Homo sapiens: one gene and its partner. The protein of the gene in region 1 interacts with the protein of each later gene in a biochemical or structural test. Each region holds a gene or a part of one and is shown on either strand. Other genes may lie near its edges. The genes, in order: ESCO2 and SMC3.

Region 1 (16,893 bases):
CATGAACATGAGAGTACAGATTTCTCTTCAACATACTGATTTCAGTTCCTTTGGATATACACTCAGAAGTGGGATTGCTGCATATGGTAGTTGCATTTTTATAGTAATCATTCTAACAGGCGTGAGGTGATCTTGTTTTAATTTGCATTTCCTTGATGAATTAGTAATGTTGAATGAGCATTTTTTCATATGTCTGTTCCTGATTTGTATGTCTTCTTTTGAAAAATATCTATTCTGGTTCTTTGCCCATTTTTTAATCAGAGTATTTGTTTTCTTGGTATTGGGTTATTTATATATTTTGGATATTATCCCCTATTGTATACACAAATTTTTTTTCCAATCAGTAGGTTGGTTAGTTTGTGTTTATCCACTCTGTACTATGCAGAAACTTTTCAGTTTGATGTTACATTTATTTCTTCTTTTATTGCCCACATTTTTGGGGTCATAGCCAAAAAATTATTGCCCAGACCGATGTCAAGCTTTTTTCTCATTTTTTTCCTTATAGTTTTACAGTTTCAGGTCCCTCATTTTAAGTCTTTCATCCATTTTGAGTTGATTTTTGTATGTGGTTTGAGATAAGTCTCCAATGTTATTCTTCTGTTTGTGGATATTCATTTTTCCCGACACCATTTATTGAAGAGACTGTGTCCTTGCCCCATTGTTTGTTCTTGGCATGTTTGTCAGACACCAGTTGACTCTAAATGCCTGGATTTATTTTATCTGTTTTGTTCCATTGGCTGCTGTGTTTTTTAATGCCAGTAGGAGTGCAGTGCCCCTCAGCTTTACTCTTTGGTCTAGATTGCTTTGGCCGTTTGGAATCTCTTATGGTTCCACAAGATTTTAGGACTGTTTTTTGTATTTTTGTGGAAATGCCATTAGAATTTTGATAGGGATTGCATTGCATTTGTAGATTGCTTTGGGTAGTATGGACATTTTAACGATATTAATTCTTTCAAGCCATGAACACTGGATATCCTTCCATTTATGTAGATATTCTTCATCTTCTTTCATCAGTGTTTTCTGGTCTTCAGTGTATGGATTTTCACCTCCTTGGTTAAATGTATTCATAAGTGGGGTTTTTTATGCTATTATAAGTGGATTGTCTTCTTGACTTCTTTTTAAGATAGATCATAGTTTGTTTTTCCTGTATAGAAACACTACTGACTTTTGTATGTTGATTTTGTATCCTGCACCTTTTCTGCATTTGTTTATTCTAATAGTTTTTTTGGTGGAGGCTTTAGGGTTTTCTGTACATAAGTTCATGTCATTTGCAAACAGATGATTTAACTTCTTCCTTTAAATTTGAATGCCTTTCTTTTTTCTTCCTAATTGCTCTGGCGAGGAATTCCAGAACTATGTAGAATAGAAATGATGAGAGTTAGCATCCTTGTCTTGTTCCTGATTAAGAGGAAAAGATTTCCACTTTTCATTGCTAAGTATGATGTTAGTTGTGGGCTTGTGATATATGGCCTTTAGTATATTGAGGTACATTCCTTCTGTACCTAATTTGTTGAGAGTTCTTATCATGAAAGGATGTTGGATGCCTTTTCTGTATTGAGATGATCATATAGTTTTGTTCTTCATTCTGTTAATATGGTGTAACACATTGATGTGCATGTATTGAGCCATCCTTGCATCCAGGGATAAAGTCCACTGGATCATGGTGTACTATGCTTTTAATGTGCTAGTTTGCATCTGTTTATCAGGGATATTGGCTGGTAACTTCTCTTGTAGTGTCCTTTTCTGGCTTTGGTATCAGATTAATCTGGCCTTGCAAAATGACTTTGGAGGTATTCTTCAGTTTTTTGGAAGAGTTTGAGGATTAGTATTAGTTCTTTAAATATCTGGTAGAATTTAGCAGTGATGTCATTACAGATGGGCTTTCCTATGATGCAAGTTTTTTTTTTTTTCTTAAACTGATTGAATCTCCTTTTTATTGGTTAGTTTAGATTTTCTGTTTCTTCATGATTTGGTATAGGTAGGTTGTATGCTTCTAGGAATTTATTTCTTATAGGTTACCTAATTTGTTGATATATGATTATTCATAGTCTCTTACGATCCTTTGTACTTCTGTGATAATCAGTTGTAATGTCTCCTCTTTCATTTGTGATTTTGTTTAGTTGAGTCTTCTTTTTTCTTAGTCTAGCTAAAGGTTTGTCAATTATCTTTCAAAAAACCAACTCTTCATTTTGCGAATCTTTTCTATTTTTTGAGTCCCTGTTTAATTTATCTCCACTGATCTTTATTTTCTTCCTTCTACTAACTTTGGGCTTTATTCTTCTTTTTCTAATTATTTGAGGTGTAACGTTAGGCTACTTGAGATCTTTCTTCTTTTTTTATGTAGAACTGCTTTTGCTGCATTCCATAGGTTTTGGTGTGTTGTGTTTCCATTTTCATTTGTCTCAAGAAATTTGTCAATTTCCCTTTTAATTTCTTTGATCCATTGGTTGTTCAGGAGCATGTGGTTTAATTTTCACATATTTGTCAGTTTTCTACTTTTCCTCCCGTCATTGATCTCTAATTTTATACTGCTATGAATGTTCTGTGTGCACTTGAAAAGAGTGTGCATTCATTCCGCTGCTATTGGATGGAATACTATATGTGTTTCTGTTAGGTCCATTAGGTCTGAAGTGTAAGTTCAGTGTTTACTGGCTGAACTCAGTGGCTCACACCTGTAATCCCAACACTTTGGGAGGCTGAGGCAGGAGGATAGCTTGAGGCTAAGAGTTCAAGAACAGCCTGGGCAACATAGTGAGACCCTGTCTTTACAAAAATTAGCCAGGCATGGTAGTGCATGCCTATAGTCACAGGTACCTAGGAGGCTGAGGCAGGAAGATTACTTGAGCCCAGGAGTTCGAAGCTGCAGTGTGCTATGATCGCACCAGTGCACTCCGCTCAGGGCAATAGTGAGACCCTATCTCTTAAGAAAGAAAAAAAAAGTTCATTTCCTTATTGATTTTCTGTCTGGACGATGTATCCATTGTTGAAAGTAGGATCTTGAAGTCCCCTACAATTTTGTATTCCTATCTATTTCTCCTTTCAGAATCCTAAATATTTATATATTTAGGTGCTCCAATGTTAGATGCATATGTATTTACAACTGTTTTATCTTAATGAATTGACCCTTTTATTATATAATTACCTTCTTTGTCTCTTGATGGTTTTTGACTTAAAATCTATTTTGTATGATGTAAGTGTAGGTACTTCCTGTTCTCTTTCGGTTTCCATTTGCATGGAGTCGTTTTTCTGACCCTTCACTTTCAGTCTATGTGAGTCTTTTGTAGGCAATATTTAGTTGAGTCTTGTGTTTTTATCCATTTAGCCACTCTGTGTGTCTTGATTGGCAAACATATTCTATTTACACTTAAAGTAATTATTGATAAATAAGGATTTACTATTGCCATTTTGTTTTGTTTTCTGGTTGTTTTATATATATTCCCTTCTTCCTCTCTTGCTGTCTTCCTTGGGATTTGATGATTTTCTGTAGTGGTGTGCTTTGATTTCTTTATCTTTTATGTATCTACTATAGGTTTTCGCTTTATGGTCATGAGGCTTACATAAAATATCCTATAATATAACAGCCTATTTTAAGCTGATAACAATTTATATCACCTACAAAAGCTCTGCACTTTTTTTCCCTTCAACATTACTAATTTTACAGTTTACATCTTTTTATGTTGTGTATTTATTTAAGAGGCCTTTTCCTTCTTCGATCTCAAAGAAGTAGACTGTTATGTCCTGATAATAGGCAAGATGTAGCTAACTAACTGTTCTCTTCTACTCTCAGGTCAGAAACAATGTTGTGTTGTTCGTAATTAAAAACTAAATACACACCTGTCAGAAGGGTAACAGTAGGTAAAGAATTGAGACAATACCAAATGCTAGTGAGGATATGGGGAAACCAGATCTCTCACACCTTGTTAGTAGGAATGTAAAATATTACAGCCACTCTGGAAAAAGTTTTGAAGTTTCTTTAAAAACTAAACATAGGCCAGGCGCAGTGGCTCACACCTGTAATCCTAGCACTTTGGGAGGCCAAGGCAGGTGGATCACCTGAGGTCAGGTTCGAGATCAGCCTGACCAACATGCTGAAACCCCCCGCCTCTACTAAAAATACAAAAATTAGCTGGGCGTGGTGGTGCATGCCTGTAATCCCAGCTACTTGGGAGGTTGAGGCAGGAGAATCACTTGAACCCAGGAGGTGGAGGTTGCAGTGAGCGAGATCGTGCCACTGCAATCCAGCCTGGGCCACAGAGTGAGACTCCGTCTCTTTAAAAAAAAAAAAAACTAAACATGTATTTACTATATGATCCAGCCATTGTTCTCCTGGGCATTTAAGTAAAACAAAGGAAAACTGATGTACACACAAAAACCTGTACAAGAATGTTAATAGCAGCTTTATTAGTAATAGCCAAAACCTGGTAACAACCAAAGTGTCCTTAAATGCTTTAGGTGAATGATAAGCTATGATACAGCCATATGATGGAATATTACTTAGCTATAAAAAGTAACAAAGAATTGATACACTTAACAACTTGGATGAGTCTCAGGGGCATTATGCTGAGTGGGAAAAAGCCAATCTCAAAAGGTCATATGGTATATGATTTCATTTATATAATATATAACATTCTCATAGCCATGGGGAATAAATTGGTGGTTGTCAGGGACTGAGGATGGGAGAGGGGGTAGTGTGGATGTGACTATAATGAGGAAGAAGATCTTTGTGGTGACTCAATAGTTCTGCATTTTGATTGTGATGGTAGTTAAATGTATATACAGGTGTGATTAAGTGTCATGAAACTATACACACCATTATACCAATGGTAATTTCATGGTTTTGGTATTATACCAGTTATGGAAGATGTAATCATTGGGGAAAACTCAGGGAAGGATACATGCTCCTCTGTAGTGGTTTTTTTCAACTTCTTATGAATCTATTTCAAAATAAAAATGTTTAAGAAACGAAATGCCAACCAAATTTCATAGTTAATAGATATAAATCTTCTTTAGTGTTACTGGTTTCTTTAGGTGGTCATATATACATTTTAGGATGGAGAGAATGAGAGAGTTTTATATACTTTATTAAAAGGAAGAGTCTAATGTTTACAATTGTTTAAGAGGAAAGTCTCGTAATGCTATGGGACACACTAGAATTTGTGAATGTCTCAACACCACTAGTTTTTTTAAAGCATTGTGTGACTAAAGGGATAAGAATTTAAGAAATAGAAAATATTTTTTAACATACTTGGAGATATAAGTTAAATTTTTGATACTTATTTAAGGAATTTTTTTTTAAAGCAGTGTGAACTCATCTGTGGTGTTAGCTATAGATGCTTCTGTATATCATTGCAGGCATTTCGTGTCCTGTCTGAACCAATTGGTCCAGAATCCCCAAGCTCTACGGAATGTCCTAGGGCTTGGCAATGTTCAGATGTACCAGAACCTGCAGTCTGTGGGATAAGTAGAATCTGGGTTTTCAGACTGAAGAGAAGAAAGCGCATTGCAAGACGACTGGTTGATACCCTCAGGTAAGAAATAAAATGGATCTAGATCCAGAACCTTAGATTCATAGCTTTCCCAGAACCTCTCGGCTTCTGAGCTAAAGGGAAGGATATTGGTAAGATACTTCAGTATAAATACTATTAAAGTCAGGCTAAGGAAGGTATTGGTACTAGAAAAACCATACTAGATGTACTCAGTCTAGGGTGCAACATTCCAGGTCTGAAACATACTAGCCCACTGCTTTTCAAACTACCTGTGCTAAAGGACTAGTTTAATTTGTCACAGACCAACACTAATAAAATAAAAATGGATTGCTAGAAAAAAATAGAAAAAACAAAACTACAATCTCAAATTGTTTTAGACTTAACAGATGTGAAATTACGCTTCAATAAATATAATCTATACAAAGTAAAGGTTTGAAAAATTACAGAAGCTGTACATGGTCATTGATAGTGACTAGATAATGAAGACTTGGTATAACTCATAAGCATAACTAAAAAAGTGGATTTGTGAGACAATCCATAGAACGAGAGAAAATAGTTGCAAATCATTTGTCTAAGGGTCTAATACCCATAAAATAATTCTTATAACACAATAAAAAGACAACCTAATTTAAAAATGGACAAAGAATTTCAGTAGACATTTCTCCAAAGATAAATTGCAAATGGTTAATTCAACATAAAAAGATGCTCAACATCTTTATCAGGGAAATCACAAAACAAAACCATAGTGAGATCCCACTTTATACCCAGTAGGATGACTGTAATCAAACAGACAAGTGTTGGTGAGGATGTAGAGGAAACTGAAACCCTTGTACATTGCTGGTAGGAATGTAAACTGGTGCAGTTGGTGTGGAATACAATCTGATGGTTTCTCAAAGTTAAACTGTTATGTGACCTAGCAGTTTCACTCCTAGGTATATACTCAAGAAAACATGTCCACACAAAACCTTGCACATGAAGGTTCATAGCAGGATTATTTATAAAAGCCAAAAAAGTGTAAATAATCCAATCTGTGATTAATGGATAAATGTGATATATCGATACAATAATAACAATGGGATGTTATTCAGCCATAAAGGAAATTCTGGCACACACTGCAACATGGAGGAACCTTGAAAACATTATGCTAATTGAAATAAATCAGTTGCAGAAGATCGCACATTGTATGATTATATTTACATAAAATGTCCATAAGAGGCAGGCAAATCCAGAGGCAGAAAGTAGATGTGTAGTTTCCAGGGACTGAGGAAAGATGAATGGAGAGCAACTAATAATGAGTACGGGGTTTGGGATGATAAAAATGTTCTAGAATTAGATAGTGGTGGTGACTGGACAATATTTGTTAATATACACAAAACCACTCTGTTGTACACTTTTAAAGGGTGAGTCTTACAGTATATGAGTTATATCTCAACCAAAAAAATGAGTGTCCAGTTTTAATTCCCATGTACACACTTTGAACTGACACTATGTATTGATGTTTAAAGTTTCCAATGTCACAAACAAGCCTGTTTGCTAATTTACCTAATCTAGGTTATATGGATGAGTTTCACAACACTTGCTCTCTCAATTTCTACACATATTTCATCGTGTAGATAATAGGTTACAAACCAGTAAGCACACTTTAACCAAACCAAAGACCACACTTTGGAATAGTGTTATTCAAGCCTCTTGCATTCTATGCCACTTTTAAAAAATAAATGCCAACACCATTATGGGGACCGGATCTTGGGCCATAAATCCTAGTCAATCACACATACTTACAAAGGGTATCAGTAGGAAAAATTGGTATCTTAAAGATTTTTGTTTGATTAGTTATGAAATACTTTTCTATGTTTTATATTAGATATATAAATTTGGTATGAGGAATACCAGTATCTAACCTAGTTCTACCATATTATGTATTTAATTATAGTTAATATATTAGAAGCTTATATCTTCTAATTGAATCAAATTCTAAATTTTTATTCCGAAATAATTTCAAACTTACGAAAGAACAAGAGTAGTAGGAAGCCTTTGTCAAGATCTATTAAGTTCAACATTTACCTCATTTGCTTTACCATTCTATGTTTAGATAACCTTCCTGAATTATTTTGTTACATATATTATGCCCCTTTACCCCTTCATGCATTGGTGTGTTTTTCTTAAAAACAAGAATATTCTCTTATATAACCATGATACAGTTATCAAATTTGGGAAATTTAATATTGATGTAATGCTTTTATTTGACAGTCCATATTTCACTTTTGTCTGTTGTCTCAAATGTCCTTCATGGCATTTTTTTTTTTTTTTTTTTTTTTGCCCAGTATCACATTCAGCATTTAGTTTTCACGTCTCTTTAATCTTCATCTTCCCTAATCTGGAACAATTTCTCAGTCTTTTGACATGGAAAAATTTGAAGAGTGCAAGTCAGTTATTTTATAGAATATCCCTCAATTTTGATTAATTCTTTTTTTTTTTCTTTCACAAACAAGCTGTAGGAGATGTTGAATTCTTTTAACCATTTCCTTATTACTTTTAATCCTAAGGTAAGCAAGATCAAGGAGAGTTGTAGTCAAAATGCAGATTAGTTTTTCCCTTCTTAAAGCTCTCAGTGGATGTTTACATTGAAAAAATATATATAGGCTGGACGGTCGCTCTTGCCTGTAATCCCTGTACTTTGGGAGGCCGAGGCGGGTGGATTACCTAAGGTTGGAAGTTCAAGACAATCCTGGCCAACATGGAGAAACCCTGTCTCTACTAAAAAAAAATAAATAAATACCAAATTAGCCGGGTGTGGTGGTGCATGCCTGTAATCCCAGCTACTCGGGAGGCTGAGGCAGGAGAATCGCTTGAACCCGGGAGGCGGAGGTTTGTAGTGAGCAGAGATCGTGCCACTGCACTCCAGCCTGGGCGACAAAGTGAGACTCTGTCTCAAAAAAAAAAAAAAAAAAAAAAAATATATATATATATATATATATATATTATATATATATATATATAGTTACTGCTTAAGATTGATTTTTTTTGGTTCTAATTATCTTTGGCTTTTAATTAACAATATGATCTTTTTTTTATTTTTATTTTTTGATTGAGTTGGAGTCTCACTCTGTTACCCAGGCTGGAGTGCAGTGGCGAGATATCGGCTCACTGCAACCTCCGCCTCCTGGGTTTAAGTGATTCTCCTGCCTCAGCTTCCCAAGTAGCTGGGACTACAGGCATGCACCACCATGCCCGGCTAATTTTTGTATTTTTAGTAGAGACAGGGTTTCACCGTGTTAGGATAGTCTCGACCTCGTGATCCGTCCGCCTTGGCCTCCCAAAGTGCTGGGATTACAGGCGTGTGCCACTGCGCCTGGCCTAGCAATATGATCTTATATTAGTTGCTCTTTACCATGGATATCCTAGAGTTAGGTGGATGGTTCCCTTTGCCTCTCATCAGAATTTTTTCTGGACCTTAGTTTTCCCATCTGTGAAATGATATCATTAGACTTCTGTCTCTAAAATATAAGGCATTTTTTCACTTACTAAAAATAAGGTTGATTTAAGTCAAGAGTATTTACTTAAATTGTGCTCATGTTAATTAGAATGTTAAGTTGCTTCCATCATTAAATCATCTTTTCTTCTCTTTTAGGAATTGCTTCATGTTTGGCTGTTTTCTCAGCACTGATGAAATAGCATTTTCTGACCCAACACCAGATGGCAAGTTATTTGCAACCAAGTACTGCAACACCCCTAATTTCCTCGTATATAATTTTAATAGTTAAAGCTGATTTCAGTTATAAAGGAGTTACTATCTGGATAAGTTCAAAGAGCTCCTTATTATAAAATACAAACTATTTAATATCAAAATAAAAAATACCGAGACTCACACTCATACACACACACACACACACGCACACACACATATCACAGTTTTGTTCCTTATGAGTTGAAAAGTCAGGAATAAATTTGTTGAAAATTATCTGGGGATTCAAAGGAAAAATCTTTGGGTGATTCCCTGATTAGCACTCTGAATGTTTAATTATGAAACTTTGTAGCTATAACTGGAAAATTACCTGACTCTTTGTAAGAGTATTAAATACAAAGTGATTTTTCTCTAGAAATGTGACCTGGTCTTTTATAAAGCCCACTCTTAGACCAGGATTATCTAATGCCACATCAGAAGCAAACAGGCAAATTTAAACTTGGGCAAGTAATTTCTGTGCCCAATTTGTAAAGGGAATTCCTGAATTTTTTTTTTTTTTTAATAGAGGCATGGGTCTCACTGTGTTGCCCAGGCTGGTCTGAAACTTTTGGGCTCAAGCGATCCTCCCAAAACGCTGGGATTACAGTCATGAGCCACCGTGCCCAGCCTAATTCCTGACTTCTCTATACAGAGTCTTCACTTGATAGGCACTCGTCTGTAGTAACTCAGTTTGAATATCTTTAGAAAATGTTTAGAATTTATTTGTAACAAGATGGTAAGGAATAAGATTATCCCATATGCATTTCTGTAGAGCAGAATTTGATAGCTTAGTGTTCAATCTTTTTGAAAATAAATGTTTACCTGTCATCAGATTTAATTAAAATTATACTTAGTAATTGCACTATTACTTAGTTAATTTTTGTTGTATGGAAATATTGGTAGTACTACTTTGGGAACCTGTTACTGACAATTGATGTCATTAACAAAATGCCTAGTTGGATTAGATGTTTTCATTTTCTAATTTTTTGCTTGTTTAAAATGCACCTTACTTGTTCTGAGATACCTGGCAAAAGTCTTTACAAAATGTATGGTAATAGAACCAAGGTTAGTAAATATACATAGGCTGGTGGATGAGAGACCATGGAACTGTGTAAATACACTTAAATGTTCACACATTTTTCTAGTGTAATTCTTGGATACTTTAAAAAGCAAAACATTGTTCAAATTGTTTTGATTCTGAAAAATCATTCAACTGCTAACTGGCAATAAGACTCTAGGCAAGTCGTTTTCCAGATTGTAATTATATGTAGAAACTATTCATCTGCATTCATTTTATTTGCCTGTAAGTTAACATGTTTCCAAAATTTAAAAGCCTGGGTCCCCAAAAGAATGTGGAAGTATTAAAATGTATGTAATTATGCAAACATTTTAATGCTATTTTCTGCACTTATTTCTTTTAAATATTTTATTTAAAATTTTTAATTAACATTTTGTTTGCTTAATGCTTTTGTTATGAATCAATTAAAATTCTTTATTTTATACAACTAAATCTGATTTTAATTATTTTATTATGAAAATAGTATATGTTAAATAAAATTCAGATAATACAGAAATAGAGATTGCCAAAAGAAGAGGCTTCCCGGCCGGGCGCGGTGGCTCACGCCTGTAATCCCAGCACTTTGGGAGGCCGAGGCGGGTGGATCATGAGGTCAGGAGATCGAGACCATCCTGGCTAACAAGGTGAAACCCCGTCTCTACTAAAAATACAAAAAATTAGCCGGGCGCGGTGGCGGGCGCCTGTAGTCCCAGCTACTCGGGAGGCTGAGGCAGGAGAATGGCGTGAACCCGGGAGGCGAGCTTGCAGTGAGCCGAGATTGCGCCACTGCAGTCCGCAGTCCGGCCTGGGCGACAGAGCGAGACTCCGTCTCAAAAAAAAAAAAAAAAAAAAAAAAAAAAAAGAAGAGGCTTCCCTTAATCCTGCTTTGAGTTTAGTGCTTATTACTTTAGAATAACTAAATACATATGCAGTTATTTTGCATCTTGCCTCACTTCAGTATGTCTTAGATATGTTGTATTTCAAGAACTATTTCTATTTTAAATATTTAGCATGATTTGCTATTGATACTGTTGTCTTGGTTGGGTGTTTTTTGTTTGTTTGTTTGTTTTGTTTTTAAGTATAACACATACAAGAAGCAAGTGCACTGAGATGGTCTCAAAGCAATGATACCCTAATGGCAATGAGCACACCTACCACCCAGATCTTGGTTGGTTTCTTTCTTTTTTTCCCCCGCCCTGGGCTGAAGTGCAGTGGTACAAACACGGCTCACTGCAGCCTCGACCTCCCAGGTTCAAGTGATCTTCCCGCCTGAGCTCCCTAAGTAGCTGGGACTACAGGTGTGTGTCACCACGTCTGCTTAATTTTTGTATTCTTTTTTTAGTAGAGACAGAGTGTCACCATGGTGCCCAGCCAGTCCTTAAGCTCCTGAGGCCCTTGAGCTCCTGAGCTGAAGTGATCCTCCCACTTCAGCCTCCCAAAGTGCTGGATTATAGGTGTGAGCCACGGCACCCAGCCAGATCTTGCTTACTAATACCTTCTTCCACAAAAGGACCTGGGGCTCTTTGGAGAAATGGCTCATTCTAGGGATAGGGCAATGAATGTACAAGATGAGCCTAGATCACCTTGTACATCCCCCCTTATCTGCAATTTCGCTTCCCACAGTTTGTTACCAAAAATATTGCATGGAAATTTCTAGAAGTAAGGAATTCATAAGTTTTAAATTGCCCACCATTCAGAGTAGCCACAGTGGGGTGATAAGTGCTCAGTTAAGATGGAAAAGGCATTAAATTTGTGGGCAGAAGACATGCACAGAAACATATTCCTATTGAGGGCAATCAGGTTGAGTACTGTCCATGGTTTCAGGCATTCTACTGGGGGTCTTTGTCATAAATTGTGCCAATATATGTGTATGTCTATTTCTGCCTGTGTATTCTTACTAATTTTATATAGGTTCTATTTATGCTAATACCAGACTGTGTTAATTATAGTATCAATGTTTGCTATAGTATTAGTACATGGTCCCACTTTTTTTCTTCGGTCTATTATTGGACTTTGCATTTCCATATACATTTTAGAATCAATTTATTCCACAAAAAGCTACCAACAACAAAAAAGCCTGTTGGGATTTTATTGGAATTGTGTCAGATCTATAGATCAATTTGGGAGGACTGATTTTTAGACTTGCTCAAGTATTGGATACTTTCTTTTTTTTTTTTTTTTTAGACGGAGTTTTGCTCTTGTTGCCCAGGCTGGAGTGCATTGGCACTATCTTGGCTCACTGCAACCTCCACCTCCCGGGTTCAAGCTATTGTCTGCCTCAGCCTCCAGTAGCTGGGATTCCAGGTGCATGCCACCACGCCCAGCTAATTTTGTATTTTTAGTAGAGACGGGGTTTTACCATGTTGGCCAGGCTGGTCTTTAACTCTTGACCTCCAATAATCCACCCACTTCAGCCTCCCAAAGTCCTGGGATTATAGGCATGAGCCAGTATGCCCAGCTGTTACTTTTTTTTAAGCCATTGGGAAAAGTGTTTTAAGTTACATCTTGTTTGCTGATATATAAACTACAAGTTTTCTGTTTTGACTTTGTATTCACAATCTTTCTAAACTTAATTAATTCTAATTTATCTATTTCTATCTACATAATATCTGTGAATGAGTTTTCTTTTAGAATCTTACAGCTTTTTTGTTCTTACAATATTGCATTTCTAAGATTGCCAGTCTAGTACAGTGTTGAATAAAAGCAATGGTAGGGGGCATATTTGTTTCATTGCTGATAATAGGTAAAGTTTTCAACATTTTACTATTAAATATAAGGTTTATAGTTTCTTTGTAGATAAATTTCTAATATTAAGGAAGTTCCTCTGTCTATTCCTAGGTTTCTAGGAAGCTCTCAAACATCTTGAACAGATACTCAGATTTTATAAAAAGTCTTTCTTCTATCTTTGGAGATGATTTTGATTTTTCTTTATTGTTAATATGGCGGTTACATTGTTCTTTGAATGTTAAAGCAATCTAGCCTCCCTGAACTAAATAAACCAAACCCAATTTGGTCTTGATGTTTTTCTTTTTAATGTTATTGGCTTCAGTGAACTAGTTTTCTTTTGGACTTTTCATGTGTTCTTGAATAAGATTGGGTATCTGTAGGATCTGTAGTAAAGGTTTTTTCATTCATGACATGTCTTTTTTCTCCACAGATGAGTTTTGCCTAGGGGTTTATCAATTTTGTTAGTATTTTTGAAGATTGGCATTGTTAATCCTATCATAGGTTTGTTTTCTATTTCCTGTAAGTTTTAATTTTTTCCCCCCATTGGAAGGGAGGTACTATGGTCTGAATGTGTTCTACCAAAAATTGTATGTTGAAACCCTGTCCCCCAAGATGATGTAATACCATCGTAAGTAGTGTCTTTAGGAAGGTGAATGGGTCATGATGGTGGAAGGAACCCTTAGGGATTAATGCCCTTATAAAAATAGAGGGTCGGGGAGCTCCCTTGCTCTGTCCACCATGTAAAGACACAGCCAGAAGGTGCCTTCTATGAGGATGCCCTCACCAGATACCATCTTGATCTTGGACTTCCTAGTCTCTGGAACTATGAGAAATTTCTGTGGTTTGAGGCACCTCGTTTATGGTATTTTTGTTATAGTAGTCTAAGACGGGAGACTTGTTTTGTTTTTCCCAAATTCTTAGCTGATATATATAGCATTTTTTTATATATAGTTTTTATATGTAGCATTTGTCTAGTTTAAAATCCTTTCTAATTTTTATTCTAATCAACAGATTGTAGAAGATTAAATAGGTACCAGGAGACATGAAAGAATCATCTTCAACATTTCTCAAGTAGCTGCTGATTATCTCCTTTTATGGAGGCATAACAAGCTCCTGGAGGCTTCTACAGATTCTAAAGGGAAAGATTTCCTGGGAGGTGAGAAAGCCACTTGAGAGAAGGCTATTTTGATTTACTAATTAATTCAGTGTAAAGGTAGTCCTGGGCACGGTGGCTCACGCCTATAATCCCAGCAGTTTGAGAGGCCTAGACAGAGGTTGCTCAGGAGTTCCAGAGCAGCCTGAGCAACTTGGTAAAACCCTGTCTCTACAAAAAATAAAAAAAAAAAAATTAGCCAGGTGTGGTGGCACACACCTGTGGTCCCAGCTACTCGGAGTGGGAGGCAGAGGTGCAAGGATCACTTGTGCCTGGGAGGTTGAGACTGCAGTGAGCCATGATTGCCCCACTGTACTCCAGCCTGAGTGACAGAGCAAGACCCTGTCTCAAAAAAAAAAAAAAAAAAAGCCCTCAGCCAAGTCACATGTTGCTCTTTTGAGAATGAGGCAAATGTCCAAAAAGATAACATCTGAGACTTAGAGCAAGTTCTAGAACAAGAATAAAAAAAATTTTCTTCCAGTTGGTAGCAGATTGTCTGCAATCTTGTGTTGAGGATTTCTAGGACCTCACCAGACTCAAGGGGCAGTGCATGCTGGGATTATTTTGTAATGTCTACCATAGACAAGGGCTGTGAATTTGCTGGTCTTGTCCTTGGTATTAGTTTATTCCTATTAGATATCTCAACTGTAGGAAGTGGAAATAAATTTCTCAATGAAAAGCAATGGCTTATGTATTAAAGAGCCAATTCAAGAAAGATCCAGTTCCTGCTTTAAGTCTTAAAGCAGGAACTGCTATTCCTGCTAGGAAAAGAATGCCCTGGAGAAGCTGCTCTGTTGGCTTGGCAAAGAAGAGTGACACATGTCAGAGTGAGGATAAGAGACCCTATTGAGTATCAGGATGCAAAATTATACATACGTTTTTCTACAAATTAAGACAACTTCCAATTTACTTGTCACATTATTTTGATGGAATATATGCAAATTAATGTTGTGTCCTATTGCTTGGTACAATCTTATACCAAAAGGCCTTCAGTGATTTCTAGGCATTTTTAAAGTTCAGAGTGCAGTTGTTCCTAATGTTTCTGAGAACGCCCTGTGTCGGTAATTTTTAAAATTCTGTCTACACCCAAATGTAGGTATACCACCTACATTGGCAATTCAGTAATTTGGAAAATTCCCAGGGGACTGTGGCTTACAGAAACTACTGATCCAAAACACTTTATAGATTAGCAAAATAAGGCCAAGAGAGGGAAAGAAACCTCACATTTACTCAAGTTTAATGACAACACTCAAATCAATGAAGTATAAAATAATGCTGAGACACCTTCTGGTACCCAAAGTGTCCTTTATTCTTTATCATCCTATTTGAGTTTTATTGTTTTTACACAGCTGGGAAATGCTTAAGGTACAAATTAATAAATTTTAAACTCAGTATGGAAAATACATTTAATAAATTAAAGCAAAAACCAAAGATCTGAGGAGATCCAAGAGATCAAGACAATCTGTAACCAGAGTCTGAAGTATCCAAGGAGCTACTCTTTTTGAGGCATATTCTCCTCAGCTTCCAGTTATCATTTGATAAACACATCAGCAAAAGGTTCAGTGTTTTAAACAAATGTAGACTTTATTTTGTACTGTACAAAGTGCTAATGTCAGTAGATCCATTAAAATATAGAATATTTAAGAAAGATCATTAATAAAAGTAATGGTCATTCAATTTAATGTTACAGTTTACAGCGTTTTACTGCTAGTGTTTTAAGTCAGCATGAGCAGTATCAAAGTACTTATGTAGCTAGTTTCTAAAACTTTACAGAAAACCCAGTACAATTCCAAGTGCTTATAGCCAATATAAGCATATTTCATATTAGAAATAGTTATCCATATGTTAACAAGAAACTATGGTCCTCAAATATGCCAATTTTAGAGTCTAATAACTACTGATAGTAACTATGTAAATATTTTGGAATAAACAGTTATTTACGCAAGCCACACTTCAGCTGAGATGATCACTAGACATCTGTTTCCAGAGCTTCAACAATGTGTGCAGCAGAAGGACGATCTTTAGGGTCTTCATTAGTGCATACAGAGAAGAGTTCAATTACTTTCTGGTATGATTCATCCAGTTCTTCCATATTAATAGGTGGCCTAGTTCCCAACGCTGCATAGTATGCTTCATCATCAAAATCACTTTCATCAAAAGTTTTATCTTGAAGGAGTTAGAGATTGAAACAATAAACAAAATCACTTTATGTCATGGAAAAGTTTAATAGCTCACCCTTCTCCTGAAACAAGAATTTATGGTCCAGTATGCTTTCCATTCTGCCACAGACAGAATGGAAATGTCTTCAATTGTCCTGCCATCAAGTAGATTTGCTTTAGTCTTGGATTTATAGGTTATCGACCCCTACTTTTACCCTTCCTGTGATAGTTTTCCAATCAATCATTTTCTCAGGAAAGGGGAGTTTTTAAGATAATGTTTTGCTTCTCTGGATAGCCTCAATTTTTCTCCCTATTCTCAATCTATGTCTCATTTGTGTGAGATTAAACCTTGGTGGTACCAAATCAGTCATCAGTACTAATACATATCTTAGAAAGATAAAATTATATAATCTTTAGTGTGAAATGAAGAGATTGGGATTTATGTTAGAAATTGTATTCATACCTTCATCATCATCATCATTTGAAAGATTAATGTGTGGAATCGATAAAGTCATCATTTCCCACAAAGTAAGGCCAAAGGCAAATATGTCTGCCTTGTCAGTAATAACACCATTCTCCTCCACAGC
Region 2 (16,893 bases), on another chromosome or scaffold:
TTTCCCGTTTGCCCTCTTAAAAGAAATGGGGAGAGAGGTGGAAGAATTGAATAAGATTTTTATGTAATATCACTTCTTAAATATACCTTGAATTAAATTATTTTTAAGAACTGTAGCATTATTTCTTTGATGTGATGTGGTAACCCAATTTAAAATACTAAAATAGCAATTAACCCATTTATGCCAGAGGTTGCAAATTTTTTTCTGTGAAAAATCAGACCTTGGCAATGACCTTGAGCAGTAGAATATAAGTAACATCCACAAGCTTAGGATTCCAATAATGGAATGCTAGGCATAAATGGGTTAAGATCCTTTATTATGAAAAGCACCAGAGAACAAATTTACACATGGTGACACTGGTTCTTTTATAACATGTAGTAAGGGCCTCAGTTTAAGCTTCCTTTTAAAAAGTCAGTGTGCCGGCCAGGCGCAGTGGCTCATGAGTAATCCCAGCACTTTGAGAGGCCAAGGCAGGTGGATCATCTGAAGTCAGGAGTTCGAGATCAGCCTGGACAACATGGTGAAACCCTGTCTCTACTAAAAATACAAAAATTAACTGAGTATGGTGGTGGGCACCTGTAATCCCAGCTACTCAGGGAGGCTGAGGCAGGAGAATCACTTGAACCCGGGAGGCAGAGGTTGCAATAAGCAGAGATCGCGCCACTGCACTCCAGCCTGGGTGACAGAGCAAGACTCCATCTCAAAAAAAAAAAAAAAAAAAGTCAGTGTGCGTTTCCACAATATTTTTAAAAGCTACTAACATCATTGGTGTTATGGATTCTCAATTTTTATTAATAACAGCATTATCTAATGCTGTCATATACTAAACACCTACTATATTCCCATCATGGAGCCACTCTGTCACAAAAACAGTAATTTGCAACAAAAAAATAAGGCAGAATCACATTTATTTTACCTGTTTCTTTCATTAAGGAGATGCTTTCTTCCTTTCGTTCGTCATACACTCTAGTACCAGCTACTTCTCTTAATAGCTTTAATCTCTGAGAATCTGGTGCTGTTGCCATCTGGTTGATCTAAAATTTTTAGAAAAATAATCATTACATAGCTGTAGCCTCCGTTTAAGAAGAAGAACTCCACGTTGAAAGGTTTTTAATACACATGAAGGTTGGGTATCCCTTATGCAAAATGGTTAGAAACCAGAAGTGTTACAGATTTTAGATTTTTTCAAGTTTTGGAATATTTGCATTTATACTTACCAGATGAGCAACCCAAATCCAAAAATTTGAAATCCAAAATGTTCCAACAAGCATTTCCTTTGAATGTCATGTCCACACTCGAAAGGTTTCAGATTGTAGAGCATTCTGTATTTCAGACTTTTGAATTTGGGACATGCCAAGTTTTAAACAGATTATGATTTGGCTAATGTCATTTGTATAGTACGCATGCCTACATATCTATGTCTCCTTTACTTAAATGAAATTTACCAAATAAAATCCAAATACAACTGTTACGGTCATAACTCTCCTTTATGAATAGGGCTAACAAGTGAAGGAGTATCTCACACCACCATCTTTTTCTTAGTCAATATGATAAGGTATAAAAGATGAGCTCCATTCTCAAAAAACAAAGTATTTTTATAAGGGAAAACCATCACTGACTACACTTTTTTTTAAAGCTACAATAATATATTAAAAGTCAATTCTTCCTCAGTTTCCATGGGGATTGGTTCTAGGACCCCCTGCAGGTACCAAAATCCAAGGATGCTCAAGTCCCTTATATAAAATGGCATAGTATTTGCATATAACCTATGCACATCCTTCCATATACTTTAATATCTAGATTAATTATAATAATACAATGTAAATGCTATGTAAATAGTTTTACTGTATTTTTAAATTTGTATTATTTCTTATTGTACTGTTTTAAAATTTTATTTATTTTAAATATTTTTGATCCATGGTTGGCTGAACTTGCAGATGTGGAACCTACAGATACAGAAGGCTAATGATATGACAAAAATGGTATGCTTTAAATATAGAGAGAATGGTACAACTTAAGTGCCATGCAACTTAATATATAACAAGTATCCCTAAATGTCAAAAATGATATCACTGCATTAAAAAATTGAAATTATCTCTACGAAAATAGGTCTATCAAAAGTATCTACATCAAAGAATCATCCTTCAGATCCTCATTATTGAACGCTCCAATTATACATATTGGTTCATGCAATTTCCTCACTTAAAAATTATTTTTCAAATGGCTACAACATATGTGCCACTGCTGGGCACTGGAAAAGAGCAAACAAAGCAGAAAAGGTCCCACCCTCATGGAGCTTACATTCTAATGGAAAAAGACAGAAAATAAGTACTATCCTAACAGTGTAAGTGTTATGAAGAAAAATAAAACAGATTAAGGAAATAAAGCACATAGGGTTGAGGGGACGGCAATGCTTTCAGATGAGGCAATCAAGGATGGCATACGGGCAGAAACTGAAATGAAGTAAAAGGGCCTAGATTGACAGCAGACGGATCTCAGAAAAGTGCTCTTTCAAATCAGCCTCCATTTAAAAAAATTTATCTCCCACAAATAGTTAAATCGGAAAAAAACGTGTTCTTCCAGTAACACATTTTCTAAAACTGAAACTCCATATTCTTCCTAATCACTTCTTCTAAATGCTAACTTTCCAATACATATCTAGAAAAAAAGGCCTACAGTATAAAATAAGTGAATATTCTTTGAGAATTTTCCCTAGTCCAAAAAAAAAGTGAAAGTATATGAGAAGAGAGCAGAACAATCAGCTAAAAAAGTTTGTAGTTTGGCTGCTGAAAAAATGTAAAAACATAATCCCTATTAGGGAAAATAACATGTGGCAAAATGGCAGATTTCTGGTAATGTTAGCTTTTCAGTATTTTAATTGTGATAAATAATTAGGTAACACAAAATATTAATTTTAGAAAGTTTTTCAAATGTGATTTTTATAGAATTCCTACAATATTCTTAATTATTGCAACATTCATAAGCCAATAATGTCTTCCCATACTTTCACCTCAGTAAGTAATACCAGTCACTAGGAAAACAAGATCCACTTAATATGCTGAAATACTTCCATCTCAACATGCAATGGACCTATTTGGTACTTTATGGCCATGTAAAAGAATATGGCCATTTTTGCTTCAGCTTAACCACTCAAATCAATAAACCAAATTCATCACTCAAGAATTACTCAGAAAACAAATTCTACTTAAAAAGGACATACAATTGTTTTACCTTTCCTTGTTTAACAATATAATAAGGATTGCTTCGAGAAAAACCAGCGCTTTCAAGGAGGTTCATCACATCATTTTTCCTGTTGACAAACAATGAAATTACTTTCCGATAAATAATTTTAAAGCACCATTAAGCAATGAGTAGAGTAGCCCCTTGGTTGATAGCATTAGGGAGGAAAGATCAGTAATTAAACCATCTGTATCATCCTCAGAACTTTCTGATTCTTATGTTTATCCTCTATATGTTGACTTGTTGAAGATGAAGCAAATATTCCTCATATATGAAGCAGGTAAAAGAATACTTTTTACTCTTTTGTAAGGAAATCATAAAATTGCGGGCTGGGCGCAGTGGCTCATGCCTCTAATCCCAGCACTTTGGGAGGCCAAGGCAGGCAGATCACAAGGTCAAGAGTTCGAGACCAGCCTGCCAACATGGTGAAACCCCGTCTCTACTAAGAATACAAAAAGTAGCCGGGTGTGGTGGTGACTGCCTGCAATCCCAGCTACTCAGAAGGCTGAGGCAGCAGAATAGCTTGAACCCGGGAGGTGGAGGTTGCAGTGAGCCGAGACTGCGCCACTGCACTCCAGCCTGGGCGACAGAGCAAGACTCCGTATTGAGAAAAAGAAAAATGCTGGCTGGGCGTGGTGGCTCATGTCTGTAATCCTAGCACTTTAGGAAGCCGAGGTGGATCATTTGAGGCCAAGAGTTCGAGACCAACCTGGCCAACACAGCAATACCCCATCTCTATTTAAGTACATATTCAGTTTTTTTAAAAAAAAGAAAAATGCTTACGTGACCATCTTCTTGTCTAAGAAATACTGATCCTTTTTGGCACCAATAACTCTTCGAAGTGAAACTTCCTCTTTATCGATCTAAGAAAAAATGTAAAAGCCCACAGTTAATTTAATAGTAAAGGAGAAAACTTTTTAAATAAGGTCATTTTAAAGTCCTTGCCCATAAGTATTTATTTTAAAATTTCAATTATCTCACTAAAAATAATACTACAAATACTCAATACTCTTAACCAAGACACTTTTCACAACAGTTTGTACATTCCCATTTGTTAACAGAGTATTCATTGTCATTTTAAGATAAAATCAGTATATAAACTGTAATTATAACAAATTATAAAAGCTTAAAAAGTTTCAAAGTATGAAGAAAATCAGCTAAACCAATTAAATTCTCAACATTACTTTAAAAAAAAAGTTACTTACTGGTAACCGGTTGTCTGAATTATCAAAAATAATCTCCACAAAAGCAGAAATAACACGAGGACCAGTACCTTCCTAAAAATGAAAGAAGTGAGAAATTTGCCATTTAAGTTGTATATTCATATCCTTTAAAGGATTCTTAAAGTCTAGGGCATAATAACAAGTCTGATTCAATGGAGAAAAATTTCTGCTAGATTCATATATACACACACACACTAATCTAACGTCTCTGCTCTTTTGGCAAGAGGGATACATACTTTGGGGATATCCCCAGAGTTATAGTATATATCCCTCTTGCCAAAACAGCAGAGACGTTAGATTAGGACAACAAAACTTCTCAACCAAATAGCTTTTGATTCTAAATAAAAAATAAGAGCTATGCAAGACATGTCAAAGTTAGATATCCTTAAATATGATTCTACAGACCACTTTATTAGACTGCAAGACTGGGGACATTTAACTCTACCTATTTGCTAATATCTAATACACCATGAGGCTTTTCTCTTACAGTCTCATTTTAATGCTGCAAAGAAATCCTAATAAATCATGGGATAATTACCAAAAGTCTGTTTTTTAAGAAAAATTGAGACATTCTACAGTTTTAAATCTATTATAGAAATATACACATTTAACATGTGTCACATTTAAACCAATCTATGACACAAAAACTATGGTACCAAGTCCAGATACCTTCCAGATTATAGAAACTATGTAGTAAATACAATGAAGAACTGTACCAAAGAGGTTATTAATTATTTTAATGCCAATCTGAAAAACCTAAAAAGAATTTTTCTAAAGGAAATCAATTCTGATTACTGGGCTACAAATTCAAACTAAACAAGGGGAAAAGACAGACAAGAGCTAAACAAAACAATTTCCTATGTGTGAGAAACACTGTTAAGACATGTTGAGGAATTTCATTTTCTAGTCTTTAATAAACAATATTCAAATCAGAAGGATTAATCGTTTTATTGTAGTCTTTCATGATTTTCTATCCTAAAATTACTTTAGTCCATTACTCATATTTTTTTCCACATCACATTGGTAATGTGCCAATGTCCTAACAAGGTTTGAGGGAGGCATGACTCACATGAACACGAAAACCCAATCATCGTGCTTATGCATTACAAAAGGACCCACTTAATAAAATATCCTAACTCACATTACTGTAAATATACAGGTGGTCCCCAACTTACGATGGTTCAACAAATGGCTGAATGACAACGTGATAGCAGTCTACATTCAGTAGAAACCATAATTTGAGTATCCATAAAATCACTGTTTTTTACTTTCAGCATAGTATTCAATAAATTATATGACAGATTCAACACTTTATTATAAAACAGACTTTTGTGTTAGATCATTTTGCTCAACTGTAGGCTAATGTCCATTTTTGACTTATGGTATTTTCAGTTTATGATAGGTTTATTAGGACATAACCCCGCTGTAAGTTGCAGAACATCTCTACTGTTTTTCATACTGGAAAATGATGTTTACTATCTAAGTACAAATATGGCTAAAACAACAAACAACTTGTATGTTGTTTAGTTTGCAATGGTTGTTTCTCTATGTTCCCAATTAATTTTTGGTTCTGCATCTTAAAGTTCCTAATCTGCAACCTCAAACTCTTCTTTCTCCTCAGCAAACCTGCTTCTTAAGCCTTTGCAGATCACATCCTTAAAGAAATGTACATGGAGGACATACCCACCTATAGGCAAATCCTATAATTTTCTCCTAACCATCACATAAAAATTAGGCCTTTATCTGGCATTAACATGTTAGGCTAAATTTCACAGCAGAATAAAACACTTATGATATATATCATGTCTCCTTTAAGACATTTATATGGAGGACATATCCATCTATAGGCAAATCCTATAATTTTCTCCTAAACCACTGTATAAAAATTGGGCTTTTATCTGGCATTAATATGTTAGGCTAAATTTCACAGCAGAGTAACACACTTATGAGAAAGATTGTGTCTTGTTCACAAAGAATCTGAAACTTGAACAAATGCTTTTTTAACCAGCATGGAAAATTTATTTTTAAAATATATGTAATATCAATAATGTCTTAAAGCAGTCTCACTCACATGCAATAAAGCCAACCGCTGTTCTGGACGAAGATGACTAAACTCATCACTGAGAACAAACTGAATTGCTGGAAATACAAAAACAACTATTAGTATACCCTAAAAAAGTGTTTATAACTTATTTATAACTTCCCACACCTCAATAGAACATAGTGTGTCTGGTAATAGACAATGCAAATAAATTATCTGTTTCATATGGACAAAAGGAAATGCAGAAAATGTGCCTGCACATCAGACTAATCAGGTAGGAAATGATATAAGAAAAATACTGAGAAGTTTTCATTGAAACATTTAAGGTAAGGAAATAAAGAGAAACCACCGAAATACATGAAAACAGACAAGCAAAACTAAGGTATACCTCTGGCTCAAAGTGTTCACTGACTGGATTAGGTTAACACTGTATTTGCTTTTTTCCCCACTAGACATAAATGATATGAGTTAAAATCCTTTTTAACAAAATAGGATGTATTTTGAGAATATGCTTAAGTGGATACTTTACCAAAAGAAATAAAACTAAGGAAATACAGGGAAATGTTTGAGATGCCCAACTTATACTACACTTCTTATACTATACCGAGCTCTGTAAGAAGGGGCCGTTCCTACTTCGGTATAGAGTACCTAACTGGACCACCCTGCCTAGGAAGTGGAACTCTTTACTCAGCTGTTCTTGTCCCAGTCCACCCAAGAGACCTCTGGCACTGTGTGTGTGTGGAGGTGGTGGGGGTGCCCACATCAGCAAGTACGTGCATAAGCATTAATGTGTGTGCTGTGGACACAGGTCGAGGTGAGGAGACTTCACACTGCCCTGGAGATTCTGAAATACTTCCACTTCAGTCCATTCTCTCATCATTGCCAAATTACAACCACAATAGGATATACAGGCTAGAGAGTGCCTTTCAGATTCGTGTGCACAGAAGAGATAGAACCTTTGTTCTTACTAAGCCAGTCCACTAAATGCCCCTTTCCCTCAAGCATTACCCAACTAAAAAGTTCAAATTTTTCAACCTACTCCTTAACTGTCTAATTTTGTTAAAATGTTTTTCTCCTCAAAGGATTTGTTAACAGACGCATTGCTATTTACACTTAAATGCAATTTAGAGAGAATTTTTGAAGCTCTATTTACTATCTTCAAAGTGACAACAGTCTGTTCAGTTTCAAGTTTTTTATACCTCTTCATCCTTTACAAAGATGATTGGTTTAGAAAACGTTTTCAAAAAGGTGAAATAAGAAAGATGAACAATTTTCCAAAACAATACTATCAACTATTCTACTGCATTTACATACGTTTAAAATATGCATTTATAACATTTATATATTACATTCAAGTTTAAAAAGCATTTTCATACATACTATTGCATTCCATTCTTACAAACCATCTAAGGTAGACAGGGCAAACATCCAAACATCTCCATTTTTAAAGTGAAAAGAAAAATTTGAGAGGCTACGTGTTTTGCCCACTCTCACACAGCTAATCAGCCACTGGGTATAAAGCAGAATTCAGATCTGTATACTCTAAACCCTCTACACTAAGCTGCAACCCCATATAAAGTATTTCTTGGGTTTCATGAATACATAACCTCAGAAAATTAATGATTTTAATAATCTACCCTAAGATACCCAGGTCTTAATATATTTACAATTCAAAAAGCAACACCTACCATAAAAAAAGTTACTTTTTCCAGATCCATTTCTGCCCACTGGAAAATTTCAAAAAGTACAAGTTATTTTACATAAAAACCAATAAAATTAAAACTGTTTACCTTTTTAAAAATACTCAATATTTTTAAAATCCAATTTTCTAATACATCTTAACATCTGAAATTAAACAGTGAACAAAAGAAACCAATAAAACAACTATAATCACCAAATAAATTCAATTTTTGTACAGACTTCTAATAGTTTTTTCTTTAAAGATATTTCACAGTTGATCCGTTTGCTCTTACCCAATAGTTTAAAATGAATAGGAATAGCTAAATATACTACCTGGCTCTTATATCATATTACAATGGATATATAATTCTATTTTAACTATATATGTTTAACAATTTAAAGATTCATATATTGCTAACGTTCTAAAATAATCATTTTAAATCCTTAAAGTGTTCTCATGTTTAAAATCAACCCTATATTATCATGTGTAGTCTCACAGAACCACAAAAATATAAATAATTTTAAGGTACTTTTTGACTAACAAAATTCAAATATAAGCAATTCAATACGTAAAAGGGTATCAAATCCTTTTAAGTGTGTTTAGTGAAATTTTCAGTGTTAAGACTCATAAATAACTATGTCAGTCTTCTCACTCTTGAGCCAGAAATATCCTGAGCAAATTAACCACAAAGTTACCACCTTTAATGCAAAGTAAATCTCAAAAAGATCATTCATGTCATGCCAGAAAGGATGTACTTTTTAAAAAAACGCATATGACAGACACAGGAGCCAGCTTGAAGGGGCCTTTCAGTAGCTAAAACTAGGGGTAATCTGAGCATCAAAATGGCCAAATAAATTATAAATTATTGGTGGGGGGAATAATCCATGCATCCATACCAATAATAAAAAGATAAATAAGTAGGTAAGGAAGGAGGAGAATTACCAAATGCCAAGTTGTAAATGTGAAAGGAGTGCTGGAAATGAAAAATCATTTTGTGACCGTCAGAATAAAGGCAAGGGTCATCAACAGATGGTAAATGCAGGCACAAAGTTTGAAAAGGAGCACAAGATTTACATGGTCCAAAAGCATCTGCCTATATTACTTATTAGCTGCAAGGGAAAAAATAATACCTACACAGTGGAAACATTAGACCTTGACTGGGTGATCAAAAGTAATATCATCAATAAGAGTCAGACAGACCTCATGTGCCTCCAGATGTGATATCCTGAGAGGGACACAACATCACTTATGTCTTAATTCTCAAAAATAACAATGTTATAAAAGACAAAGGAAGGCTGTGGAAATGATCCAGATTAAAGGAGACTAAAGAAGCATGACAACTATGCAATACCTGCTCCTAAATTAGATCCTGTACTGGAGGGGGAAAAATGCTATCAAGAACACTTCTGGGTCAGTCAACATAACTGGAAAATGGACAGATTACTATGTATTAAATTTACTTAAGTTGTAAATTGTACTGTGATTATGAAAGAGAACATCCCTCCTCTTAGAAAGTACACATTAAAGTCAGAGGTAAAGGACCATGGTGTAAATAACTTTAAGGAAAAAGGTGTGTAAAAAGTGGAAATGATACAGCAAGTGGGGAAAATGTTAACAACAGGTGAATCTAGGTAAAGGGTTTATGAGTAGTCTCTGAACAGTTCTTATTGGGGAAATTTTTCTGTAAATTTGAAACTATTTCTAAATAAAAGTTTAAGATGACAATTTATCATTAAATGAATAAATATTTCAAACCACAATCCATCTATAAATAACTGAAATTTTAAGAATTTCCTTTTAAGAATTACTGCTAGAGTGGAACACTATATAGCAATTTTAAAGGATGCTGAATATTTAATAAAGATATTTCAAGATTTATCCTGAAGGAGAATAACAGATTACCAGTAAGTTATATGATGAACCCATTTTTTATTTAAAAATGAACCCATTTTTATTTAAAAATGAACCCATTTTTATTTAAATATATATTAAAAAGATGTATACAAAGACTAAAAACGTACTGAGGTAAACACAGTTTATATGTGGCCCCAGATTCACCTTTCTCAACCCAGGCCTTGGCTGCCAATCAATGGAAAAGCTCAGTCTCCTAATACCTCTGGTAGATTCAAGCTACCTTGGGAGTACATTCAGGTACTCCTGAATTGTGAACATGGAAAGGAGGCTATAACTCCCTGACTACTTCCGGGTGTTAGTTCCCAGAGCACCACAATCCAAAAGCTTGGAGGCATCAATGCCAGATGTAGAAAACTTTGACCAATGAAAGACAGGTGCCTGCAAACAAATCCTTGTCAGAATCCAAATCCATTCCTCTATCATCTGACCTTTCTAAGGTATGGTGGGTCCACAAAGTCTGTGAGTTATTTAACATGACTGCAAACCACCTGTCTCTTCTTTAGAAATCTATGACCAGCTTTTCTCTTCATTCTTGCCCTCAAACTGCACCTCCCATCAAAGCCTTAGCAGCTAATCCTGTCTGTGCTGTTTTCTAGGAAACCAGGACTAATCACAAGTATAGACTGTTATTATTAAGAATGGTTATCTCTGAAGAATCATGGTGTGCAGTAAAAAACAAAGAATGGTTATCTCTGAGTAAAAGGATTATAGTTTATCTTAATTTTCTTCCTTTTAGCTTTTCCATAATGTTCTATAACATGTATTTCTTTTGTTAAAGGTTAGGGGGAAAAAAATCCCTAAAAACGTATATGTTTGATGCATATACCCAACATCAGTACAAGAGATATTTTTTAATAGTCAACATCATTCATCAATCAAAGTGGTATGCTTTCACCAGATATTTTTAAGGCAAATCTCAGTACCTAACTACTTTTGGTCTTTCTTACATTATGTCTTACAACGTGTCTGGTTTTAAAATATGTTTAATCAGTACTGTTATCTTGGGTTCATTTGTTTTAGTTAAACAAAACCATTTTCCTTTGTAACAGTGACTATTAACAAATCTAATGCTGCAATCACAGAGGTAACACAACTAACTGATAACAGCTAAAACAATGGTATTTGATGGACCTTATAGACAAAATGTAATCATTCTAGCTAGTAAGTTACAGATCATTTATAAAATCACACAAATGAAATATTAAGGTACTTATTTTAAGGTGCAAGTTAAAGAAAACAGAAATCTAATAATTCTTATTTTTCTACATTTCTAAAGATTTTCTGATTGATGAAAAAAATCAGAAAGTACTTATATGTAAGCAAAACCCCAGTACAATTAAGCCACCCTATGGCATGTCAATTCAATTAAATGACTTCAGTAGACAGAGCACAAGCAGGGAAAAAAAAAGTATGCCTTCTTTATTCCCAACTACAAGGCTGCTATTGATAAATCGAGGGCAAAAAAACCTGCCTTCAATTTTATCATTTTATACAAAATGAAGTATGATTCTCTAAAGGTCTTCTGGAAACATTAGTAATGTGAATCTCACCCACGCACCACAGACTGAATTGAACTGACACCCTGAAACAACTGACACCTTAATCCCGAATGTGATAGTATTTGGACATGGGGACCCCTGGAAGATGATTATGGTTAAATGAGGACATGAGGATGGGGCCATGTGAGCACACAGCAAGACAGCAGCTGTCCATAAGCCAGGAAGAGAGCCTCACGAGAACCTAACCATGCAGGTATCCTGATCATGGATGTCTGACCTCCAGACTATGAGAAAAAAAATATCTTGTTTAAGCCACCAGTCTATGGTATTTTGTTATGGCTGCCTTAGCAAACTAATACACCACTTAGTTTGGACTCTGTACAGCAAAACTGTGTCAACAGCAGTCTGTGTTTCTGGTGTCCAGAAGCACTCCTTTCATCTATCCTGTAAAATACTCAGCAGAGTGTCAGAAAACATTTTTGTTAGCTGTATCAGCAAAATGCACACTACAATCTGAGCAATCTATAATGACTACATATTGTTAATGGCAATCACCATTAGCTCTTTATCTTCACACTTACATAAGGTTTCTCATTTAATCTTCTCAACAGCCCTATGAGACAGGTATCATCTCCACTTTACAAATGAGAAAACTGAAGCTTCTCAGAAAGTGAAAAAGAACGTGTGCCACAACTGGGATTTTTTTTTTCGTTGTTGTTATACTAGGATACATGTGCACAACATGCAGGTTTGTTACATAGGTATACATGTGCCATGTTGGTTTGCTGCACCCATCAACTCGACATTTACATTAGGTATTTCTCCTAATGCTATCCCTCCCCCAGGCCCCCACCCCCCTATAACTGGGATTTGAACCCCATTCTGTTATGCTCCAAAGTTTATGCTCTTCCAATCTAGCTACATGGTCTGTCCTTAGAGACACTGACTGCCGGGGTGGGGGGGGAATCCTGGCATCTACTTTGTGAATAAAAATTGTCTGTCTCTGAAATAAGGCAACAGTCAGCATTTTCACTAGGATATATAACAAGAACAGAAGAGCGGAAATGCTTTAAAACACTCTTACACACACATACAAGGCTACCTAGATAAAAAATGGATAACTTATGAGTGTCTTATCCAAACATTTTAAGTTTATAAAAATAAGCAATTCATCAGTGCAATAAGACAGAAAAGTTATTTCACGCAGAAAAATATAACTTAATATTCAAAGACAATTCCTGTCTCCTTAAGCCAATATAGAAATGGACAGAATTTACATTATCTGTATAGACTATAAATATGACCGAGTAAACCAAGAACACTTACCAATCACATTATGTTTTGAACTGAAGGGATCTACAATTGTTTGATCTCTGTAACTTCGAAAACCCTGGATAATCACCTAGTAAATAAAAAACATTTTTGAGAACCCACCCCACAAAAAAAATTAACATTTTTCTCTTGCATTTCTTTCTTGTTTTTCATTTAATGCAATATAGAAAACTCGAAATTTCATATAAGAAAAATTCATTTTGGAAAGTGGTGATTAAAAATCTGCTAAAAAAAAAAAAAGGTACTTTTATCGGTAATCTTTGCCAAGGCAATGCTGCTGGGTTTTATTTTTTTTTAGGAGTTATGCTGTCAACCTGTTAAGGACCTTTCAAAATCAAAAACACTGTGTGAGCTTAACTGAACCCTAAACGCTGCAGTACAATAGCAAGTCTATAAAAGCAGGCCGACGGGCCCCAGCTCTCCTGACTCCAAGACCACCGAGTGCTGCTTTCAGTCACTCACGCCGGCCAGCCTGAAAGAACCCACGTTCCAAAGAAGGAGTGCTCAGAGCCCGACAGACCCAACAGAAAACCGTCTCCAAGGCCGTGTGCCTGGGCTCATCTTTGTGGTGGAGTCCCGCGCGGGAAGACCATTTTGACAGAAGTAAACAACCGAGGGAGGCGGCGCTCCGTATCCTGCAAGCAGGAGGGTCCCGCTCACTTCGCGGGTTAACTGGGGAGAAGAACGGCTCCCCGCAGTGACAGGTGACGACACCCCAGCCAATGCCCCCAGGGCCGCCCCCGGGCCGGGGAAGCCACCTTTCCACACATCCCAGGCACATGGGCCGTGTGAGGCCACCCCTGCAGGACCACACAGCCCTTCCCGCCCGCGGCCGCCCCGGCGGGGTGCCCCCCGCCAGCTCTGGGGCCACCCAGGAAGGCCCAGTCCCTCCCAGCGGCCCGCCCGCCGGCCCTTCCACACCTCTCGGAGATCCTGCCTCTCCCAGACAAGCGCCAGCAGGGAGGCCGGGGCTGCAAAGGAGTGCCCCAATTCTCCGCGACCCCGCAGCCGGGGCACTAGCGGGACCCGGGTCTCCCTCCTCCCCCACAGTCCCCGCCCAGCCCTGGTCCAGCCTGTGGAGACAGGGGAGAGGCTGCGGGTGGCGCCGCAACACTCCCGCCTCAAGGAGCGGCCCTTACCGGCCCATGACGGGGTGGAGGGACGCGAAGGCCTTACCTGCTTTATGTACATGATTCCGGGCCCCTGGCCTGGAAGGAGACCTGCCCCGGAGCAGCAACCGCACGGCCGCAGGGTCAGGTGAGGCGCCTACGCGACCCCTCCCCCAAAGCGCCGCTCGCTCCCCTCAGCCAAACAAAATGGCGGCGCTCGTGGGGGCGGAGTCCGCGCCTCGGACGGAACCACCTTGCAGCCTTCACAGGGCGTAGGAGGAGTCAAGTTCAGGTCTGCTCTTTCTTTTAGGCAAAACCAGTCCTCCACAGCGTTTTTTGGTGGATTTCTTTTGAATCTAGAATTCTGTAGCTAACGCTTTCCTGAGACTTAGTCAAAAGCTTCACTCGGAAAATCTATGACCGTAGGGTTGGTCCGTACCACCTCCGAGCGCGGGGCCAATGGTCGCGTCCACAAAGGGGGAAAGGTTCCGCGCCAAAGCCAAGAGGGAGACTCCGAGGGCCAGTAGCGCCGCGGGCTGTCGGCCACGTGATTCCGCGCTGTTTAAAAAAGCGGACCTCGCGCGCACTGTGCTAGCCTTGGAACACATGGAATGCTGGTGATTCTTGGAATTCTGTGTGCGGAGTCACTGCTGCCCCTTTGTTATCGCTCTCCATAGGAACGTTTACAATCTTAGCACGCCCCAAGCTGGTTACGAATTGCCCACTCGGAGGACAACCCCGAAGGGATTTGTCAATGCTCGAAAATTTGTTTTAATAATGTGATGATTAATTCCGTCGGGAACTGTTTCTGTTCTACCATCTGCTATAAATCTAGGCAGATCTGTACAATTGCAACAAAGATTTAGGTAAGGCTGAAAGCTTTTAATCCACTTTAAAAACAAAAGAAAACAGCCTGAAAGATACTAGGTGCTAGTGGCAACCCTAGGTCTGTCTGATCCTTGTCAGTCTTGGGAGAAAAACATCATTTGTTTAGAAAATGAATCTCTGGGCTGCTCTGAAATTACTTGCTGGGAAGAGAACAAAATAACTACCCAAATCATCCCCAGCCCCACCCCCGCCCGCTGCTGGAGACAATTCTGGCCCTAATTATTTCTAGATTGAACTATTTTTAGTAGCCTCCTAACTGCCTCTGCTAACCAGGGTATCTCCCTAGGAGTCCTTTATCTGGAGCCCGGATCAAATCCTATCCAGCCCTTGGTTTAAAAAAATAAATAGGCCTGGTCGAGTGGCTCAAGCGTGTAATCCCAGCACTTTGGGAGGCTGAGGGGGGAGGATCACCTGAGGTCACGAGTTCAAGACCAGCCTGGCCAGCATGGCGAAACCCCCGTCTCTACTCGAAATACAAAAATTAGCTGGGCGTCGTGGCGGGTGCCTGTAATCCCAGTTAGTCGGGAGGCTGGGGCAGGAGAATTGCTTGAATCCAGGAGGCAGAGGTTGCAGTGAGCCAAGATCGCGCCACTGCACTCCAGCCTGGGCAACAGAGCGAGACTGTCTCAAAATAAATTAAATAAATATGTAAGCATTTTCTTTTCTTTATTTCTAACTTTTTTTTTTTTTTTTGACAGGATCTTGCTCTGTCACCCAGGGTGGAGCTGGAGCATAGTGGCTCGGTCATGGTTCACTGCAGCCTCAAACTCCTGGGTTCAAGCCATCCTCCCACCTCAGCCTACAGGCTGTGGCCACCAAGCCCAGCTTTTTTTTGTTTTTGTAGAGACCAGGTCTCCTTATGTTGCCCAGGCTGGTCTCTAACTTCTGGCCTCAAGCGATCCTCCCACCTCTGCCTCCCTAAATGCTGGGATTACAGGAATGAGCCACTGCACTCAATCTAAACATTTTACTTCTAGATTTTAGTTGTATTATTTAAAGCTTAGGACAGGTATGGTGGTTCACGCCTGTAATCCCAGCACTTTGGGAGGCCCAGGTGGGTGGATCACTTGAGGTCAGGAGTTTCAGAACAGTCTGGCCAACGTGGCAGATAGGATTATCTTATACATCCTGTTTGTAATTCTAAATATGATGGAGTTTTATCATCTTCATTTTATAGACTAGGAAGTGGAGGCTCAGCATGGCAAAACTCCGTCTCTACTAAAAATACAAAAATTAGCTGGGCGTGGTGCAGACGCCTGTAATCTCAGCTACTCAGGAAGCTGAGGCAGGAGAATCACTTGAACCCAGGAGGCAGAGGTTGCAGTGAGCCGAGACTGACACTGCACTCCAGCCTGGGTGATGGAGCGAGACTCTGTCTCAAAAAAAAAAATTCTAAGCCTCCACTTCCTAGTCTATAAAATGAAGATGATAAAACTCCATCATATTTAGAATTACAAACAGGATGTATAAGATAATCCTATCTACCTAAAATTGTTTATACATATGTAGGCAAAATATGAAAAGATGGTGACTAAAACATTTGAATGGCTTTCACAGTGATGGGAGTTTTACTTTCTTCCTTAGGCTTTTCCATATTAAATGAAGCTTATACAATTAGCTTATATAATTTATATAGGCAGAAAAAAAGATCAGCGAAAAACCTAAAATAATCAAAAGGTGATTTTGAGAATGTAATGCTTTTATTTATATTTATGTATTTATTGTCTATCTCTGCACGAATATAAATCCAAGAGAGAAGGGACTTCATTTTGTTCCTGCTGTTACTTAGTAACTAATTCACAGAAAGTACTCAGTATATATTTATGAGTGAAAAATGCACAGAAGCAAAGTACTTACCACCGTGCAGGGCTTACATATGCCAGCTACTGGTGTTTAAAAGCTCCCTATGTCCCCATTCCACCCACCTTTCATCCCCCTTAGGAGCATCATTCTCTTCTGGTAAGTA

The links.
Region 2: of the proteins of ESCO2 (region 1) and SMC3, one has a biochemical effect on the other in vitro, tested with the Homo sapiens proteins (one study listed by BioGRID).

Annotation. Positions count from the first base shown.
Region 1 is NC_000008.11:27,794,189-27,811,081, forward strand, and holds the end of ESCO2 (N-acetyltransferase ESCO2), read left to right. Parts: intron 1-5,352; coding exon 5,353-5,528; intron 5,529-9,117; coding exon 9,118-9,250; 3' UTR 9,251-11,128; downstream 11,129-16,893. Other genes in the region: PBK (lymphokine-activated killer T-cell-originated protein kinase), read right to left, coding at 16,117-16,313, 16,770-16,893. UniProt on the Homo sapiens protein: Acetyltransferase required for the establishment of sister chromatid cohesion. Couples the processes of cohesion and DNA replication to ensure that only sister chromatids become paired together.
Region 2 is NC_000010.11:110,565,045-110,581,937, reverse strand, and holds the start of SMC3 (structural maintenance of chromosomes protein 3), read right to left. Parts: upstream 14,244-16,893; 5' UTR 14,122-14,243; coding exon 14,107-14,121; intron 13,001-14,106; coding exon 12,925-13,000; intron 8,232-12,924; coding exon 8,193-8,231; intron 6,603-8,192; coding exon 6,535-6,602; intron 5,579-6,534; exon of another isoform or gene 5,477-5,578; intron 4,518-5,476; coding exon 4,446-4,517; intron 4,104-4,445; coding exon 4,024-4,103; intron 3,311-4,023; coding exon 3,232-3,310; intron 1,035-3,231; coding exon 917-1,034; intron 16-916; coding exon 1-15. UniProt on the Homo sapiens protein: Central component of cohesin, a complex required for chromosome cohesion during the cell cycle. The cohesin complex may form a large proteinaceous ring within which sister chromatids can be trapped.